Linked DNA regions of Homo sapiens. The protein of the gene in region 1 purifies or fractionates together with the protein of each later gene. This does not show direct contact. Each region holds a gene or a part of one and is shown on either strand. Other genes may lie near its edges. The genes, in order: CHST12 and ATP23.

Region 1 (10,599 bases):
GGACATTATTCCGCCTCAGAAAGGAAGTTAGTTCTGACACCTGCCACGACACCGATGAACCTAGAGGACATTGCATGAGGTGAAGTACTTCAGTCCCAAAAGGACCAATACTGTGTGACTCCATTTCTGAGGGAGCTCGGGTAGTAGAAATCAGAGAGTGGAAGCTGCTGCCTTCTACCAATGGGGAGCGAGTGCTGAATGGGGACAGAGTTTCAGTTTGGGAAGATGAGAAAGCTCTGGAGATGATGGTGGTGGTGGCACGACAATACGAATGTGCTTAATGCCACACAACAGTGCACTTAACAATGGTTAAGATGGTACGTTTAAAATTAAACATTTTTATCATAATAAAAAACTTGGAGGGGCCAGGTGTGATGGCTCATGCCTGTAATCCCAGCACTTTGGGAGGGTGATGCAGGAGGGTCACTTGAGCCCAGGAGTTTGAGAGCAGCCTGGGCAACACAGTGAGACCTCATCTCTGCTGAAAATAAAAAACTAGCTGGGCAGGCTGGCGCTCACCTGTAACCCCAGCTACTTGGGAGTCTGAGATGGGAAGATCACTTGAGCCCAGGAGGTTGAAGCTGCAGTGAGCTGTGATTGCACCAGTGTATTCCAGCCCGGATGACAGAGCGAGACCCTGTCTCCAAAAACAAAACAAAACAAAAATAAAAGAAAGCGAAGCTTCAGAAAGGAAGGCAGGAGGTGTCTAACACAGGGGACACCTGAGGCTAGCAGGCACTGGGGGCCAAGACCCACACAAGCCCACCTGAGCCTGGGAAACACAGGGACACCACACACAGAGGACACCAGGGTATGTCCCAACTGAGCGTGGCCAGCAACCAGGGACTGGGCAGTGGTGACAAATACCACACACGAGGAAGACAGGTCAAGCAGGGTGCCCGACACCACGAAATGATTGCAACCATCTCTCCAACTACAGCTTAGAAGCAGAAATAGCAAAGGAGTTTCAGCCAGATGTTTCCAGAGCCTCCTCTGACACTTTTATCAAGACAGGGCCCATCAAACCTGAGGGTTCAAGGTCAGTCGTGTCCTTGAGGGTGAAGGCACTGGAGCTAAACCAACCAGAAAGCCACAGAGACAGTCACACGGAGCCTCTTCTTGGTGACACTGGGTACTGTCATCCAGCACGGTCTAGAGATAAACGCCAAACCACTCCACTCCTGCCAACTGTAAACCTCAACAGCCATAGTTTACTTTCTATTTAATCTATCTATCTACCTATCTTCTATCTGTCTATTTAGAAACAGAGTCTCACTTTGCTGCCCAGGCTGGAGTGCAGTGGCACGATCATAGGTCACTGCAGCCTTGAACTCCTGGGCTCCAGCGATCCTCCTGCCTCAGCCTCCCGAGTAGCTGGGATTACAGGTGTGCACCATCATGTCCGGCTGATTTTCTTATTTTTTGTAGACACAGGGTCTCGCTATGTGGTCCAAACTGATCTTGAACTCCTGGGCTCAAGTGATCCTCCCTCCTCAGCCTCCTGAGTAGCTGGGTTTACAGATGTGCACCACCACGTCCTTTTTATTTTTTGTAGAGATGAGGTCCTTGCTATGTTGCCCAAGCTGGTCTTGAACTCCTGGGCTCAAGTGATCTTCCCCCCTCAGCCTCCCAAAGTGCCAGGATTGCAGGCATGAGCCACCGTGCCCAGCCTTAATAGCCATAATGTATTAATATTTATTTATTTATTTTGAGATGGAATCTCACTCTGTCACCCAGGCTAGAGTGCAATGTCGCGATCTCAGCTCACTGCAGCCTCTGCCTCCTGGGTTCAAGCAATCTTTCCATCTCAGAACTCCTGAGTAGCTGGGACTACAGGTGCACACCACCACACCCGACTCATTTTTTTTTTTTTTTTTTTTTTTTTTTTTTTTTTTTTAGTAGAGACAGGGTTTCACCATGTTGGCCAGGTCTCAAATTCCTGACCTCAAGCGATCCTTCTGTCTGGGCCTCCCAAAGTTCTGGGATTACCTGCCTGAGTCACCCGCCCGGCCTTAACAGCCATAATTTAAACTAGACAGTATGGGAACAGCTGGAGTTAGAAATCCTAGAAATCCTGCTTCTGTAACTGACCGGTTTACCTCTGACTTGACTTCAAACAGGAAGCCCTGAAGATTGACCTTTTCAAGTACAACACTTAAACAAAGAACTTTCCCTCTGGAAGGATTTGTCGGCTACCCTTCCAAAAACAGACAGGTGCGGCCTGACTTCAAGTGCAGGCCCCGCCCTCCTCCGGTGAGTGGCCCTAGCCCTGGAGGCAGCTCCATCAGCCTCAGCATCCCCTCCCGGCGCCCGCACGCTCAGAAAAACCACAGGAGCGGGCGAGCGGGCGAGCGGGCGGGCGGGTGGGCGGGCGGAGGGGAGAGGGGATATTTTACTCCAGCATTCCCTTCCACATTTCGTATTAAATACCTGAAATATATTAATCTTAAAAAACAATATCGATACAGTACTCAATGGATAGAGGCAGTGGAGTGAACAAGAAGCCCAGATTGCAAAATCGTAGGTCATAAAAAAACTGGAGTGCGCGTGCGTCAGGTTCCAGGCACGCGAGAAAAAGCAACGCGAAAGCTTTCAGTCTCGGAGGAGGTTTTCGGGCTTGGGGTAGCCGAAGAGAACAAAGTCGGCCTCGTAGAGTTTATACAGCTGCTGCCTCCAGGCCAGGGGGATCTTGGCGAACCAGTCCTCCTCCCAGCTGCTGGCGGTCCTGTTCCGGTAGCTCGGGGGGAAGCGGAGCTGCCGGTCCACCTGGAGTAGCTGCAGCAGCTGCGCGGCGTCCTCGTCCAGAGTCTCCAGCTTCCCCACGAAGTCGTAGTCGATCTGGCACGGGTGGCAGAGGCGGTACACCTGCCGCCAGTGCTCGTTGAAGGGCGCCAGCTTCTCCGTGTGCGGGTCCAGCAGGTACTGGATGAAGTTGGCGAAGGACACCTTGAGGCCAGCGCGGAAGGCCTCGCGCGCCGAGGCGGGCAGGCTGGTGTGGTTGGCGTACAGCCGCAGCATGGGCACGGCGAACTTGCGGTAGAACTCCTCGTTCTCCAGCTCGAACTTGCTGCGGAAGGCGGAGATCAGGCGCACGAAGGGGTCGCGCACGAAGAGGAACTTGGTGTACTTCTTGAGCTTGACCTTCATGAGGTGGCGGGAGAGCTTCCCGTAGCGGCGCCAGAACTTGTTGAAGGTCAGGTGCGCGCTGGCGTTGTGCACGTGCTCGCGCGGGATGCGCAGCGGGTCGCGGTAGGGCGCACCGCGGTGCAGCAGGCTTCCGCTCAGCACGATCATCACGCGCTTCCAGTTGGTGCAGGCCACCTTGGGCACGTAGCAGTAGATGGCCCCGTGCCGGTCGTCCACGATCAGGTGGCTCAGCTCCGAGTTGGGGATGTCGTCGAATGCGCGCTCCTTGGTGGGGAAGGCCAGGCTGGAGTTGGCGCAGAAGCCCCGCAGCACGCTCCTCCGCTCCGCCTGCTGCCGGCCCTGGTCTGGGCTGCGCCGGGCGTCGCGCGGGGACCAGTCGTAGCCTCTCACGCTCTCCTCCATGCTCCCCGGCGCAGGCGGCTGCTCCGTCTCCTTTCTGGGAAGGTCGCTCTGCTTCACGCCAGCACTGAGAAACTTGTCCAGAAACTCGTCGACATCGGAGTCGGCCGTGAGCTCCCTGTCCCTGTCCGGCCCGGGCGTGGGCAGCGGCGGCCCCGTGTGCGGCCTAGAGAAGGACGTGTGCAAGTAGAAGTGCGCGGCGCCTGCGCTGTCCCAGTACACGATGATCAGCAGGATCATGAACACCGACCCCAGCACCAGCCACAGCCGGAACAGCCGGGCCTTGGTCATCCTGCCCCGGGCGGGCTGGGCCCTCTCCGGGCCTCTCACTTCAGCTTCCTGCAGAGCCGGGGCATCCTGCTGGGAACCTGCAGATGCAATGACACACTAGTTAATGACTGAGGTGCACTGGGGCTCTGACTCCTGCCTTCTGATCAGTGGGGGACTGGGGTCCGGAGGAGCAGGAGCGCTGGGCCACGTGATATCAGCTCGCCCTCCAGAGGGGCTGGAGGCTGAGGTCAGCAGTGCAGGGAGTCTACACATCCATGTGCCCGAGCACCAGTAATGACCCTGGACGCCAAGGCTCGCGTGCTTCCCTGGCTGGCAGTACTCCACATGTGCTGACACTCGCCACTGGCGGGAAAGTAATATTGCCCACAACTCCCAAGAAGAGGACGCCTCCCAGGGAGTGGAGACCAGCTCCAGGTGTGAGCCCTCCTGGACTCTGCCCTCTGCAACTCTTCCCAAGGCTGATTTTTTTTTTTTTTTTTTTTTTTTTTTTTTTTTTTTGATATGGAGTCTCGCTCTGTCGCCCAGGCTGGAGTGCAGTGGCCCGATCTTGGCTCACTGCAAGCTGCACCTCCCAGGTTCACGCCATTCTCCTGCCAAGGCTGATTTTAATCTTCGAATCTATATCCTTTTCCTATAATAAACCATAGCCACAAGAATAACTGTGATCAGTGAGCTCTGTAATCTTTCTAGCAAATCATCAAACCCCACAGTGGTCTCAGGGACGCCTGCATTTGCTATTGGTGTCATAAGTAAGAGGGGTCTTGGGAACCATTCCTTAACTTCACAGTGACCCAACAACAGGAAAATTGTTTTGGCAACACCCACTCTACTTAAGTCGAATGCCAATGGAAAAACTGCACCCTACAGCTTCATCAGGGCCACCCTGAGAGCTGACCTTCCACACCACCCTGGCTTCCCAAAAGTAAGTGGCACATTGCTATTCCCCTGCCAGGCACCAGGGGGTGTTGGTGGGGCTGAGCTGGGAGCTGATACCCCTTCCTCTGCCCATGGAAGTAGAGGTGCTTCCTCTGTCTGTCCCACCAGGGTACTGTCAGTGTGGTCCAGCAGGGAGCTAAGCCTTGACCCCACCTGGCATCCACAAGGTGGAAGGAGATGGTGTGAGGCAGGAGAGTCCACACTCTGACTCCCTCTCCCCCAGCCAGGTCAGGGCCCAGTAGGAGCTGAACTCCAACTCTACTCCACCCCTATCTGGCACCCATGACATGGCGTGAGGTGGTTAGAGGTGGGGCAAGTTGGCCCTCTACTTTCTCACCTCCTCTCTCCCGGGAATGGAAAACATTAATCATGCAAATATTAATGAAAAGAAAGCAGGAGTGGCTATCTTAATATCAGATGAAGCAAATTTCAGAAGGAAGGAAACTACTAGAGACAAAAGGACATTACATAATGACAAACAGTTCAATCCCCAGGAAGACATAACAATCCTAAACATGTATGCACCAAACAACAGAGCCTCAAAATACAAAAAGCAAAAATCGATAGAGCTAAAGGATAAACAGACAAATCCACAATTATGGCTGGAGACTTCAACACTTCACTCTTGATAACTGACAAAACTATGAGGCAGAAAATCAGCAAGGATACAGAAGAACTCAACACCAGCAACCAACAGGACATAACCGACATATGCAGAACACTCACCTAACAAGAGAACACAGTTTTTTCTAAGTGTCCACAAAACATTCACCATGGTAGACCAAACCTCAGCTAATTTAAAAGAATTGAAATCTTGACAGGGCACGGTGGCTCACATCTGTAATCCCATCACTTCAGGTGGCCAAGGCGGGTGGATCATTTGAGATCAGGAGTTGGAGACCAGCCTGGCCAACATGGTGAAACCCTGTCTCTACTGAAATTACAAAATTTAGGCTGGGTGTGGTGGCTCATGCCTGTAATCCCAGCACTTTGGGAGGCCGAGGCAGGTGGATCACTTGAGATCAGGAGTTGGAGACCCGCCTGGCCAACATGGTGAAACTGTCTCTACTGAAAATACAAAATTTAGGCTGGGCATGGTGGCTTATGCCTGTAATCCCAGCACTTTGGGAGGCCAAGGCAGGTGGATCACCTGAGGTCAGGAGTTCAAGACCCGCCTGGCCAACATGGTGAAACCCCGTCTCTACTAAAAAAATGCAAAAATTAGCTGGGCATGGTGGCAGGCGCCTGTAATCCCAGCTACTCAGGAGACTGAGGCAGGAGAATCGCTTGAACCCAGGAGGCAGAGGTTGCAAGGAGCCAAGATTGTGCCACTGCACTCCAACCTGGGTGACTGAGCAAGACTCCATCTCAAAAAAATAAATAAAAATGAATAAATAAATAAAAATAAAAGAATTGAAATATTTTATATAAAGGAATAAAACTAGAAATCAATAACAGAAAAGACAACAGGAAAATCCACAAACACAAATTCCTGGAAAATAAATGACACATTTCTAAATAATAGCAAAGGAAAAAGTTAAAGTACACAGAATAGAATGAGAATGAAAATACAACATATGTTACAGTCACTGTGGTGCCAAGAGCATTAGAAAGCAGAAAAGGCCGGGCACGGTGGCTCTCTCCTATAATCCTAGCACTTTGGGAAGCCGAGGCGAGAGGGTCTCTTGAGCCCTAGAGTCCAAGACCAGCCTAGACAACATGGCAAAACCCCATCCCTATAAAAAATGCAAAAATCTGCCGTGCATGGTGGCATGCACCTGTAGTCCTAGCTACTCTGGAGGCTGAGGCAGGAGGATCGCTTGAGCCCAGGAGGTCAAGGCTGCAGTAAGCCGAGATCGTGCCACTGCCCTCCAGCCTTGGTCTTAGCAAGACCAAGACCCTGTCTCAAAAGAAAAACAAAAACAAAAAACCAACCAAACAAATGAAAAAAACCTACAAATTATCTTTATCAGGAACAAGACAAGGAATGAAATTATAGATCCTGCAGCCATTGAAAGGATAAGGAACTATTACAAACAATTTTACGCCCACAAATTTAGCAACCTAGATGAAACAGACCAATTCCTTGACAACCACAAACTACCAAAATGAATAATCCTATACTAATTAAAGAAACTAAATTTGTAACGTAAAAGCTCCTTAAAAAGAAATCTCTGGGCCCAGATGGTTTCACTGAAGAATTCTATCAAACATTCAAAGAATAACAACATCAATTTTATACAATCTCTTACAGAAAGGAGAAGAGAGGACATGTCCAACTCATCATCCTAATACCCAAACCAGTGAAAATAAGTACAAAAAAAAAGAGGCCGGGCGTCGTGGCTCACGCTTGTAATCCTAGCACTTTGGTAGGCTGAGGCAGGAGGAACACCTGAGGTCAAGGAGTTCAAGACCAGCCTGGCCAACATGGCGAAACCCTGTCTTGTAGGGAGACCCCCTGAAACTATTGCTATGGAATAAAAGATGAAATGCTCCTGATTACTGTAAATACAAAGTTGCATTCAGGATTGTGTAAAGACAATGCCAGGTTGGACTGTCAGAATGAGCCAACAGCACGTGATATGCTTCCCCCTGCAGAGAGCCTATGAACGGACATGCAGTCAGGGAGCTTTCACATCACCAAGATTCCTATCCCAGAAAAGCAGATGTTCATAGCTCTGGGAATGGAATGCGACCCTTGTGGAGAGCCTACAAACGGACGCATGGGGGGCGCCTGTCCATATGGATAAGATAGTGCTATAAACGCCCTCATCTTGCCACGGCTCTTCTAGGCCTCTTTAGGGTTAAGGCATACTCCCTTCTGAGAATTTCTGGTCTAACTGGCTGTCTAGCTTCACGTCCTGTTTCTATGGATTGTTTGTAACCAGCTTTTGCTGCAACTATTACTGCTGATTAATATCTTGCTAATCATAGGTTATGGAAAGCCTGTGTTTCTGTTTTAAGGCTGTTAGAAATTACTGATGCACATGCTATATTGTAAATTCTTATCTCTGTATACTGTACTTCTGCATACAGATGTTATGTTAAAGAATTACTTCATCCCCATGTGACCATCTCACCTCATAATCAAATGACCCTAAATCCCTCACTAACCTACCCCCGCCCTCACTAAACTTAATAATAAATGCTGGTATATCCAGTGCATTGGCGGCATCGCAGGACCAGAAGGCGGTCACCCCCCGGACCCAGCTTTCACTGTCTTGTGTGTGTCTATTATTTCTCGACCTGCTGATCCGCCTGGGAACAAATAAAAGAGCCCCGTTGCATTGTGGGCTTCTGGCCAGATCCCACAATACCGTCTCTACTAAAAAATACAAAAAATTAGCTGGGCATGGTGGTGGACGCCTGTAATCCCAGATACTCAGGAGGCTGAGGCAGGAAAATCACTTGAACCCGAGAGGCAGAGCTTGCAGTGAGCCGAGATTGTGCCACTGCACTCCAGCCTGGGTGATAGAGCAAGACTCTGTCTCAAAAAAAAAAAAAAAGAGAGAGAGAAAGCTACAGGCCAATATCACTTATGAACTTGGATGCAAAAATGCTCAAAATATTAATAAACCAAATCCAGCAGTGTATAGAAAGAATCACAGCATAGTGACTCACGCCTGTAACCCCAGCACTTTGGGAGGCCGAGGTGGGTGGATCACGAGGTCAGGAGATCCAAACACGGTGAAACCCCGTCTCTACTAAAAATACAAAAAATTAGCTGGCCATGGTGACGGGTGCCTGTAGTCCCAGCTACTCGGGAGGCTGAGGCAGGAGAATCGCTTGAATCTGGGAGGTGGCGGTTGCAGTGAGCCGAGATCGCACCACTGCACTCCAGCCTGGGTGACAGAGCAAGACTCCATCTCAAAAAACAAACAAACAAAAAGGAGTCACGGCATGACCAAGTAGGGTATGCAAGAACGGCTCAATGTTCAAAAATCAACCATGTAATCTATCATATTAACAAGCTAAAAAATCAACTCCTACAGGAAGGAACAACAAAACCCATATCCATTCATTATAAACACTCTCAGCAAACTTAGCAAAGAGGATATCCTCAACTTATAGGGCATCTACAAACACCCTACAGCTGTACCATTTTTCTATCATCTCTGTAGGGGGGGGTGGCAGATGGAAGGCCCAAACTGTGTTGAACTTTTCATCTTCAAACAAATGTGTAAACTTTTTTTTTTTTTTTTCAAGACAGAGCCTTGCTCTGTCACCTAAGCTGGAGTGCAGTGGCACAATCACAGCTCACTGCAGCCTTGACCTCCTAGGCTCAAGTGATCCTCCCGTCTCAGCCTTCCAAGTAGCTGGGACTGCAGATACACACCACTGGGCCGGGCTAATTTTTAAAAATTTTTTATAGAGTTGTGGTCTCACCATGTTAACCCGGCTGGTCTTGAACTCCTGGGCTCTAGCAAGCTGGCCACCTCGGCCTCGCAAAGTGCTATGAATTTCTTAAACTGAGTATTTTTACATTTGTATGTCTCTCTCTCTCTCTTTTTTCTTTTGTGAGACAGGGTCTCGCTGTGTCACCCAGGCCGGAGTGCAGTGGCATGATCTTGGCTCACTGCAACCTCCGCCTCCCGGGTTCAAGTGATTCTCATGCCTCAGCCTGGCCACCTCGGCCTTGCAAAGTGCTACAAATTTCTTAAACTGAGTACTTTTTCATTTATATGTCTCTCTCTCTCTCTCTTTTTCTTTTGTGAGACAGGGTCTCGCTGTGTCACCCAGGCTGGAGTGCAGTGGCATGATCTTGGCTCACTGCAACCTCCGCCTCCCAGGTTCAAGTGATTCTCATGCCTCAGCCTCCCAGGCAGCTAGGATTACAGGTGCCCACCCTGACACCCGGCTAATTTTTGTATTTTTAGTAGGGATGGAGCTCCACCATGTTGGCCAGGCTGGTCTTGAACTCCTGACCTCAAGTGATCCACCTTCCTCGGCCTCCAAAGTGCTGGGATTACAGGCATAAGCCACCACACCCGGACTGTATGTCTCTCCTGTCACTCTTGTATGTTATATTTTTTTAATATTAGCAACAATCTGAGTGCTTTAAAAAAAAAAACCTACAGCTAACCTCATAATTAAGGGTGCAAGAGTGAGTACCTTACCACCAAGATCATGAACAAGGCAAGGACATCTGTCTACCCGCCCCTGCCCCGTCATCAGTAGACACCTACTCATCCCCAGCTCAGCGAAGTCTTTCCCAGTTGGGTCAAATCCCAGACTATGCACTCTCCATAGGTCCCATCAGCAACTGTGTGCTTATTTGGGGTGTGTATGTTTAATTACTCCCGCTCTCACTCACATAGCTGGGGAGGGTGGGCTCCGTCTGGTTGTGCTCACCACGTGCATGCACATGGTAGGGTGCAGTCAATACCGAGTGAATCTCAGGCTCAGAGGCCCCCATCACATCAGCCTGGCTCTGAAGCCCCTTGTGACCAAGCCCCTGAGGTTCCATGCCAGGTCCTATCCTGGGGCAACCCTGGGCCACCTTCCTGCCTTGGCTTCTTGCTAAGGACGTTGGTTCCTTTACAGAAATGAGTCCCAGCCCCCTGAATATTCGTCCCCACAGCCAGCTGCCCTCTTCTCACTGGCAGTCCCTTCGCACGATGCCCATCTACCTACTCCCATCCCGGACTATGCAGGTCCCCCAAAGAGGTCCCCTGCTGATCTAGCGAGCCCCGTCGTCCCCAGCCTGTCTCTCCCTCCAGCTTACTGCCTTCTGCCAGGCCCTTCCCCCAGAGCGTCTAACCCCTGACCCCTGGCACCTGTGCTGCCACCACCAGAGTGCAGACTCCCCAGAATCTGCATTCAGAA
Region 2 (10,599 bases), on another chromosome or scaffold:
TTGGTTGCTGTTGGTATATAGAAGAGCTACTGATTTGTGTACATTAATCTTGTATCCAGAAACTTTGCTGAATTCTTTTATCTGTTCTAAGAGCTTTCTGGAGGAGTCTTTGGAGTTTTCAAGGTAAACAATCATATCACCAGCAAACAGTGACAGTTTGACTTTCCCTTTACCAATTTGGATGCCCTTTATTTCTTTCTCTTGTCTGATTGCTCTGGCTTGGACTTCCAGTACTATGTTGAAGAGGAGTGGTGAGAGTGGGCATCCTTGTCTTGTTCCAGTTCTCAGAGGGAATGCTTTCAACTTTTCCCCACTCAGTATTATGTTGGCTGTGGGTCTATCATAGATGGCTTTTATTACAAGGGACATACCTGTCCCTTGTCTGCCCATTTTGCTGAGAGTTTTAATCATAAAGCAATGCTGGATTTTGTTGAATGCTTTTTCTGCATCTATTGAGATGATCACATGATTTTTGTTTTTAATTGTTTGTGTGGTGTATCACATTTATTGAACTGTGTATGTTAAACCATCCCTGCATCCTTGGTATGAAGCCCACTTAATCATGGTGGATTATCTTTTTGATATGTTGTTGAATTCAGTTAGCTAGTATTTTGTTAATGATTTTAGCATCTATGTTCTTCAAGGATATTGGTCTGTAGTTTTCTTTTATGGTTATGTCCTGCCCTGATTTTGGTATTAGGGTGATGCTGGCTTCATAGAATGAATTAGGAAGGGTTTCTTCTTTCTCTATCTTGTGGAATAGTGTCAAAACGATTGGTATCAATTCTTCTTTGAATGTCTGGTAGAATTCTGCTGTGAATCCATCTGGTCCGGGACTTTTTTTGTTGGTAATTTTTTAATTACCATTTCAATCTCGCTGCTTGTTATTAGTCTGTTCAGGGTATCTAATTCTTCCTGGTTTAAGCTAGGAGGATTGTGTTTTTCCAAGAATTTATCCATCTCTTCTAGGTTTTCCAGTTTATGTGCATAAAGGTGTTCACAGTAGCTTTGAATGATCCTTTGTATTTCAGTGGTGTCAGTTGTAATATCTCCTGTTTTGTTTATTAGTGAAATTATTTGGATTTTCTTTCTTATTTTCTCAGTTAATCTTGCTAATAGTCCATCAATTTTACTTATCTTATCAAAGAACCAGCTTTTTGTTTCATTTATCTTTTGTATTTTTGTTGTTGTTATTGCTGTTTCAATTTCCTTTAGTTCTGCTCTGATCTTGGTTACTTCTTTCTTCTACTGGGTTTGGGTTTGGTTTGTTCTTGTTTCTCTAGTTCCTTGAGGTGTGACCTTAGAATGTCAGTTTGTGCTCTTTTAGTCTTTTTGATATCAGCATTTAGGGCTATGAACCTTCCTCCTAGCACCACCTTTGCTTTATCCCAGGGGTTTGGTAGGTTGTGTCATTATTATCATTCAGTTCAAAGAATTTTTTAATTTCCATCTTGATTTCGTTCTTGACCCAATACTCATTCAGGAGCAAGTTATTTAATTTCCATGTATTTGCATGGTTTTGATGGTTCCTTTTGGAGTTGATTTCCAGTTTTATTCCACTGTGGTCAGAGAGAGTGCTTGATATAATTTTGATTTTCTTAAATTTATTGAGGCTCATTTTATGGCCTATCCTAAGGTCTACCTTGGAGAAAGTTCCATGCACTGTTGAATAGAACGTGTATTCTGTGGTTGTTGCATGAAATGTTCTGTATATATCGGTTAAGTCCATTTGTTCCAAGTTATAGTTTAAATCCCTTGTTTCTTTGTTGACTTTCTGTCTTGATGACCTGTCTAATGCTGTCAGTGGAGTACTGAAGTCCCCCACTCTTGTTGTGTTGCTGTCTCTCATTTCTTAGGTCTATTAGTAATTGTTTTATAAATTTGGAAGCTCCAGTGTTAGATGCATATATGTTTAGGACAGTAATATTTTCCTGTTGGACATGGCCTTTTACCATTATGTAATGTCCCTCTTTGTCTCTTTTAACTGCTGTTGTTTTAAAGTTTGTTTTGTCTGATGTAAGAATAGCCACCCCTGCTCACTTTTGGTGTCCGTTTGCATCAAATGCTTTATTCCACCCCTTTAGTTTAAGTTTATGTGAGTTCTTATGTGTTAGGTGAGTCTCCTGAAGGCAGCAGATAGTTGGTTGGTGAGTTTTTATCCATTCTGTGGTTCTATTTCTTTTAGGTGGAGCATTTAGGCCATTTACATTCAATGTTATAATTGAAATGTGAGGTATCATTGCATTCATCATGCTCTTTGTTGCCTCTGTATTTTGGTTTTTTACTTTTGCTTTTTAATTTGTATTTTCGTTTTACAGATCCTGTGTGATTTATGCTTTAAAGAGGTTCTGTTTTGATGTGTTGCATTTCCAGGATTTGTTTCAAGATTTAGAGCTCCTTTTAAGCAGTTCTTGTGGTGGTGGCTTGGTAGTGGTGAATTCTCCCAGCACTTATTTGTCTGAAAAAAGACTGTATCTTTCCTTCATATATGATGCTTTGTTTCACTGGATACAAAATCCTTGGCTGATAATTGTTTTGTTTGAGGAGGCTGAAGATAGGGCCCCAATCCCTTCTGGCTTGTAGGGTTTCTGCTGAGAAATCTGTTGTTAATCTGATAGGTTTTCCTTTATAGGTTACCTGGTGCTTCTGTCTCACAGCTCTTAAGATTCTTTCCTTCATCTTAACTTTGGATAACCTAGTGACAATGTACTTAAACAATGATCTTTTTGTGATGAATTTCCCAGGTGTTCTTTGTGCTTCTTGTATTTGAATGTCTAGGTCTCTCGCAAGGCCAGAGAAGTTTTCCTTGATTATTTCCCCCATATATGTCTTCCAAGCTTTTAGAATTCTCTTCTTCCTCAGGAACACTGATTATTCTTAGTTTTGGTCACTTAACATAATCCTAGACTTCTTGGAAGCTTTGTTCATATTTTCTTATTCTTTTTTCTTTGTCTTTTTTGGATTGGGTTAATTTGAAGACCTTGTCTTCAAGCTCTGAATTTCTTTCTTCTACTTGTTCAATTCTATTGCTGAGATTTTCCAGAGCATTTTGCATTTCTAAAAGTGTGTCCAAAGTTTCCTGAATTTTTTATTCTTTTTTCTTTAAGCTCTCCATTTCCTTGAATATTTCTCCCTTCACTTCTTATATCATTTTTTGGATTTCCTTGCACTGGGCTTTGCCTTTCTCTGGTGCCTCCCTGATTAGCTTAATAACTAACCTCCTGAATTCTTTTTCAGGTAAATCAGGGATTTCTTCTTGGTTTGAATCCATTGCTGGTGAACTAGTGTGATTTTTTTGTGGGTGTTAAAGAGCTTTTGTTTTGTCATATTACCAGGGTTAGTTTTCTGGTTCCTTCTCATTTGGGTAGTCTCTGTCAAAGGGAAGGTCTAGGGCTGAAGGCCATTGTTCAGGTTCCTTTGTCCCACAGGGTGTTCCCTTGATGTATACCCTCCCCCTTTTCCGATGGATGTGGCTTCCTGTAAGCCAAACTGCTGTGATTGTTGTCTCTCTTCTGGGTCTAGCCACCCAGTGAGTCTACCCAGCTCCATGCTGGTACTGGGGGTTGCCTGCACAGAATCCTGTGATGTGAACCGTCTATGGGTCTCTCGGCTGTGGATACCAGCACCTGTTCCAGTGGAGGTGGCAGGGGGGGTGCAATGGACTCCATGAGGGTTCTTAGCTTTGGTGGTTGAAGGCTCTATTTTTGTGCTGGCTGGCCTCCTGCCAGGAGGTAGCGCTTTCCAGAGAGCATCAGTTGTGGTAGTATGGAGAAGAACTTGTGGTGAGTGGGGCCCTAGAACTCCCAAGATTGTATGCCCTTTTTGTTCAGATACCAGGGTGGGTAGGGAAGGAACATCAGGTCGGGGCAGGGATAGACATGTCTGAGCTCAGACTCTCCTTGGGCAGGTCTTGCTGTGACTGTTGTGGGAGATGAGGGTGAGATTCCCAGGTCACTGGAGTTGTGTCCCTAGGAGGATTATGACTGCCTCTGGGGAGTCATGCAGGTTGTCAGGGAAGTAGGGGAAAGCCGGCAGTCACAGGCCTCACCCAGCTCCCACACAAGCCGAAGGGCCAGTCTCACTCCCACCATGCCCCCCACCACAGCCCCAAGTCTGCTTCCAGGTGGTGGGTGAGACAGGCTTGAAAACTTGCCCCAGGCTACCCACCTCCCAGCTGTGAAAGAAAAGAGCTTGGTTCTTCCCCTCTGTGGATTCTGCACATGGGATTTGTGCCCTCTCCCAAGTTCTGGCCGGGAGGCTTCTTGCCCCATTGAAATAGTTACAAAGTTCAGCTAGAGATGTCCTTCTCCCTGTGGAGTTTTACCCGCTGCTCTTCTGGCTGCCCTTGCAATGGATCTCTGTGGTGACAGGCAGGAATGGGCTGCTTGGGGACCCAGCGAGCTCCCTGGGCCTTCCTGCTGCTTGCTCTACCCCTGTATTTCGCTCGGCTCTCTAAATTAACTCAGCTCCAGGTAAGGTCGGAAACTTCTCCCACAAACAGACCTTCAGTTTCTCCAGTGGGGGGGTGTGTGTGGGAGAGGAGGGTCTCCCTTTCCCACTTCTGCAGTTGGGCACTCACAGTATTTGGGGTGTCTCCTGGGCACTGTAGGAGCAGTCGCTTCCTTCAGAGGGTCTGTGGGTCCTCTCAGTATTGCTGGTTTGTTCTTGCAGTCGATCTGGAGCTAAAATTCGAGCACTGCCTTTATTAAAAAGAAAAAGATCTAACCAGGACTGTCCCCAGAAAATTAGGCCATATGGGTCCCACATATATGATAAAAGAAGAATAGGGAGAGGATAGCATTGACCACTGAATGAATTATTTCCAATTTTCATCATAACAACAGCTCAATAAGTATCCTACAATGAGATCAGTACACATTTCTTTACATTTAATGTAAATACCAACAGTGGTCACCTATCAACATCATGGAAGAGCACACTTCACAGGTTTCATAATCAAATTTTAAAATAATCACATGTAATAAAAACAAATGACTAAAATACAAAAATGTAATGTATTTATTTACTAAATGGTTAGCTATAAAGATACAATTTCTGCCTTGGAGTTTAAAGCAGTTTCATTTTTTGCCATAGTTACTTTTTCTGATAATATGCTAGAATCACAGTCTTCTCTGTTTTATCTGGATTGTAGGGATTGTTTACATTTTATATGTTTGTTCACTTGAGAACCAAATTTTTTTTTCTTCATGATGATGGAAGCTCTGTAATATAAAAATGTCATTGTGCTCATATATTTGAATAATACCGATCACGGTTTTCAAAGTCTCTGTGAGCATATCTTGCATAAGTCTTGTTATGTGGGATCCTTCCAAAAGGTTCATGGTCATTGAAACAAGATTCAAAAACTTCATCAACAGCCTTTTTAGCTACTTCTTTGCTGATATTCCTAACAGCCAGGATAGAAAGAGTGGCTCTGTCTCGCACACAAGTCTAAAAAGAAGGAAAAGTATGAGGCTCTAATTTTATATAAACATTTAATCACGAAATAATACATTTTATCTAATGTCTGAATTAATTAAAATTAATTTCCTCATATTATTTTACTAATTTCTGTCATTCCAAAGAAGAAAACAAAATGAACAAAGATCCATAACACTTAAGGAGTATTTTTAGCTCAACCTAAAATTATTTAGGCATAAGTAAGACCTTCTCCATTTTCTCATCTTTCCCACTGATATAAGCAGATGTCATTCTCAGAAATTCTTGGCAGTGTCTGCCAAACAATATCTCCCAATTTGCAAACTCGCCAAAAAAAAAAAAAAAGTCTATAAAGTCCTGATTGACTTTTTGATAAAATTTAATTAAATTTAAAATATACTTCACTTCTGTACCTCTCTTTCTTTTCAGTTGACCAATGCTAGATAACTTTTCCTTTGAGAAGGGTAAGTCCTCTCTGGAGGCAACAGGAAACCATACACATATCCACCCGAACTTGGAATGTACCTTAATTTTTTAGGGGGTGTGGAAATTAAACAACTTTTTTTTCCTGATTGTTCTTTACACAGATATTAAAGTTCTAAGATAATAATTTACCTAACATTTCATAGTAATAGGCTAGAATTTCTCAATACTCTAATTTAAATATTTAAGAAATATAAGGCCCTGCCATTCCAATTCTTGGAGAGCTTTTAATCCATTTATTTCTCCCCAGGACCAATCTAAAACTCAAAAGAATGGCATTTGACCTTTTCCTAAAAATAATCAAACACTGGTTTGGATGGCTGTGCATCCTGACAGCCATCCGTTTTCTCCACATGTTCCCAGTTTTTCATTGGCCTGGTCAGTGTGCTCAAGCTGGAGATATTCACTAACATTGGAATATAGTGTTTCTCAACCTGAATTTTACTAAACGCTGATTTTAAAAAATAAACCCCAGGCATAAAGGAACAAGAAAAGGAAGAACCATGTGAAGCCAAAACAACAGTTGCTAAAAAGAGAGGAAATTTCTCCCCTCCAGGGAAAAAAGGTACAAAAATTTGTCTCCTGAAGCCACAGGGTTGGGAGACACAAGTGTAGACCACAGATTTACTTCTTTTCAGACATAATAAATTTCTGTTAAAATAAAGATATGACTATGCAATTTTACAATCAGTAACTGTACTTGCTGTTTCTATTTCCTGGGTACATGCTGTACAAAAGCAGGGACTCCATTCTCTAAGACTCTTCTCCCTCAGCCAGATTCCTACTACCTCCACTTATTTTCTGTCCTATTGCTGTTTCTATTTGTTTTCTGCTGCTGCTACCCAATGGTAAAAAGAGGAAAACTTCCTCTTTCAAAGATTGTGTGCATCACAAACCTATCACAAAGATAGAAGGTGAATTAAAAAAAAAAAAAACATGCTCTATTTCTTTAGTATATCAACTGATTTTTTTTTAATTGGAAAAGAATATAAAATTAGCATATTTTTCTAAAAACAGAGTATATGTAATAGTTTTTTTTTTTAAGGAATTTTTCAAACTCTATTGACAAGAGCAGATATCCATAAGCTATGCCAGCACATGCTTTAACCACATTATTCTCTTCTCTAGGGGCGTGCTGATGTGTACCCTGCTTCCACCCTCTCCACTGACAGCCAGAACACACAGAATTCACCAGAGAAGCAGGGACTCAAGGGCACAGAAAACATGCAGCACAAGACAAGTCACTGGCATATCACTAAGCTGACCTGGCAGAGGCTGAACACCTCACTGTCTAGAGTAATCACCCTTTCCAGGCAGAAGGCTTTTCTTCTCCCTCCCATTCACTAAGTTCACAATTTCTGAGTAGCTCACTGTGACTTTCCACCCCCCACTCCAGAGTTGAGTTACTCTCTTCTCCAGAAAACCAAGGGCCTTCCTGTTGTCCTAAGCCTATCTTTTTTCATCTAGTTGGAACTGATATCGTGATGCTCATATACTTCACAAACTGACTCAGCAGGCTCTTACTGTAGAAAATGACTGACCAGCCTTTCTCCTAAATGTGGACACAGGCCCAGGCAGAACTGCTCACATTCATTATCAATCCATGAGTCCTATACTTTCTTTCCCCACGTCCACCTAATACAGATCTCAAAGCCTTTCTACCAGGATAATCTTGCCTTATAGCTCTCTTTTGTTTTTTGTTTTTGTTTTGTTCACACAAATCCCTCTCAGCTAAGCTCATCATACTCAAGTCTGTGCTAAGCCAAAGGTTTTCTATCACATTATATAGCCTTTACAGGTACACTGACACATAGCCATAACTTGTGCAGCAACACACTCTCTGTTCTGAAAGGGATTACATCTTTTGTCTCCAGAATGCTATGGTAGATTCAAAATAGAAGTCAAGAATTGTTAGAATAACAGTAAGACATGCTGTGATTTCACTTCCATTCCTTATCCACCCCCATCGAAAAGTATCCCAGATGCAAGATCTTAGCTCCTTTTTTTTTTTTTTTTTTTTTGAGATGGAGTCTCACTCTGTGGCCCAGACTGGAGTGCAGTGGCATGATCTCGGCTCACTGCAACCTCCATCTCCCAGATTCAAGTGATTCTCCTGCCTCAGCCTCCATAGTAGTTGGGACTACAGGTGTGCTCCACTACGCCCAGCTAATTTTTTTGTATTTTTAGTAGACACGGGGTTTCACCATGTTGGCCACGCTGGTCTCGATCTCCTGACCTCGTGATCCGCCCGCCTCGGCCTCCCAAACTGCTGGGAGGCATAAGCCACCGCACCAGGCCTCTTTTCATTATTAGACTATCTCACACACTCATTGAGTCACATAGCTTGCCCATAATTACAAAGTAGAACTAAATTCCATCTACTTTGTTTAAATGGTACATACTTTGTATTCTTTTCACATACGAAGTTCTTTCAAATTTCAAATACTGAATGTACTTTTCATTTCTTTATTCATTATTTCCACTCGTAACACTCTGGAGGGGAAGTGATTTCATATTAGTTTTTACCTGGTGGTGTTGTTTTAATCCAAAATGTAACCTGAATATTTCATTGACAAGTGAGCAGTCTCCACTAAGGTTAGCAGCTCGAACCTATCACACAGAAGACAAATAAAAAGAAATAAACGCTCATGCTCTATATATCTTTATGATATCAACCAATTTTTAAAAATTAGAAAAGAATATAAAATTAGCATCTTTGTCTGAGAAAAGAGTATTTGTGACACTTCTTCTTAAAGGACTTTTTAAACTCTATTGACAACGAGAGCAAATATCTATGAGCTATGCTAGACAATGCCAAATACACTGGAGAGATGGGGAAAAGTTCAATCGCCTACCAAAGGAAATTTTCTAAACTTTATGCGTAGCTTTACTGACAGAACTAATTTCTTTTGGAACCAAAAGTCAGAGAGCTAGACCTCAGAGTTAAACTACACACTCTACAAGATACAAATACTTGTAGAAATTGCCAAAAGTACTTCAAGAAAGCATTCTTGAAATAAACTGAGTTTCAATGTGACCTTAAAACTGAATGCATTAATATCTGAGACACTTTGAGAATATGCCCCTCCCAACCCTTGCCCGAATCTCCCTTGGAGCTTCCCTCAAACCTATATAAGTTCATGACCTTCCTCTAGGGACTTGATTGTCCTATGAAAAATGAAGCAATACAAAACACAAAGAATCAAGAACATTCCAAACTGGTCACGCTATGAGCATGACAGCCTGAAATTAGGACATATTTTCAGATTTACTATACTTCAATGAATGAAAAAGTCTTAGAACTACCCACATAGATTCTACAGGCAGCTTGACCACATTTTTGCTAATTCATTGCTAACAGAATGGCCCACTTCTTGTTCCTTCTTCAATATTATGGCCTCATTCCTCTGAGGAGCTCAAAGTACTTAACACACTTTAACTAGCTAAAAGGCATTAATTCTCACAGTACCCAAGAAAGAGACCTATTTAAAAATTCAGGTTTCAGTCTATTCTCCAAATAATTGGAATTATAATTAGATGCAGGGGGCTACATATTAATTTCAAGAGAAAGGGAAATAATCGAAGTTATATAGTATAGGCTTGAGATTTAGATTATTTTAATTAACTCTTCAATTAATGACATCCAAGTATATGCATATGCAGAATACGCTCTCTCTAGGAGCATATTCCAAGAGCAATCCAACGTGCTTAGTAATAAATATCTTTTTATGTTGTATTTTTGAAAAGAGCATGTTTTACTCTAGGGCAAGCAAGGAGCTCTATGGAAGGCAGCTGGGCAAGCTAGTTAAAAACACTAGTTGTAATCCTGCCTCTACCACTTACTAACTTTGGAATCTAAACAACTGTCTCACTTTCCACATATGTAAAACAGGGACAATAATAGTATAATATCTATCTCAGTAGGTTATTGTGAAGATTAAATAAGAATCTGTGCAAACAGAACAGTGTTTGGAACACAGCCCTCAGTAAATTTTAATTATTTTTTTATTTTTATTTTTATTATTAATGTCTCCTATGGAATACATTATAAAATATATTCCATAGGAAAAAATTAATAGCTTATTAAAGTCAGTCATCACTATTACTAGGACTTACAGGATATAGTTAAGAGAATTCTAAAAATACACTTTAAATTTCTCTAACTGTATATCAAAAATGGTATTCAATGTTAGTTATAAACCGAAATTCAAGACTAAGGTAGAACTATGACAGTAAGAAAAGGAATACATTTAAATAAATTACACTTGAATAAAATATTCAAGCATAGAGTATTCTGGAGAAAAATACAATAAAACTCACCTCTGAGCACGCCAAATGTCTGATGTTGGTGAACCAGTCGACATGGGCACGACAATGATCAAATGCATGAATAAGCTCGTGTGTGACCACTCTGTTCATATGGGCCTGATTATGGATATTATTCTGGCACAAAACTATCTAGGAGACACCAAAATAAAAGAAGTTCAGTGATTCTAAAATCTCCTTCCATAGACTCGATCTTCTCTCCCACATGACCTCACCTCTCCCCCACAAGCTCACCTGCCTGGAATATCTCTACCCACTCTTCTTCATTGGCCACACATCTACCCATGGGACAAGTCCTAGTCCTAAGTGTACATGCTCCAATTGCCTCGCCCAGTGACTAACTTCTCCCTT

What was found.
Region 2: the proteins of CHST12 (region 1) and ATP23 purify together in Homo sapiens (affinity purification with mass spectrometry; 2 studies listed by BioGRID and IntAct, with this or other methods). This does not show direct contact.

What each region holds. Positions count from the first base shown.
Region 1 is NC_000007.14:2,425,878-2,436,476, reverse strand, and holds part of CHST12 (carbohydrate sulfotransferase 12), read right to left. Parts: intron 3,915-10,599; coding exon of another isoform or gene 3,838-3,914; coding exon 2,593-3,837; 3' UTR 1-2,592. UniProt on the Homo sapiens protein: Catalyzes the transfer of sulfate to position 4 of the N-acetylgalactosamine (GalNAc) residue of chondroitin and desulfated dermatan sulfate.
Region 2 is NC_000012.12:57,951,539-57,962,137, reverse strand, and holds the end of ATP23 (mitochondrial inner membrane protease ATP23 homolog), read right to left. Parts: intron 10,381-10,599; coding exon 10,243-10,380; intron 8,533-10,242; coding exon 8,449-8,532; intron 5,452-8,448; coding exon 5,248-5,451; 3' UTR 2,990-5,247; downstream 1-2,989.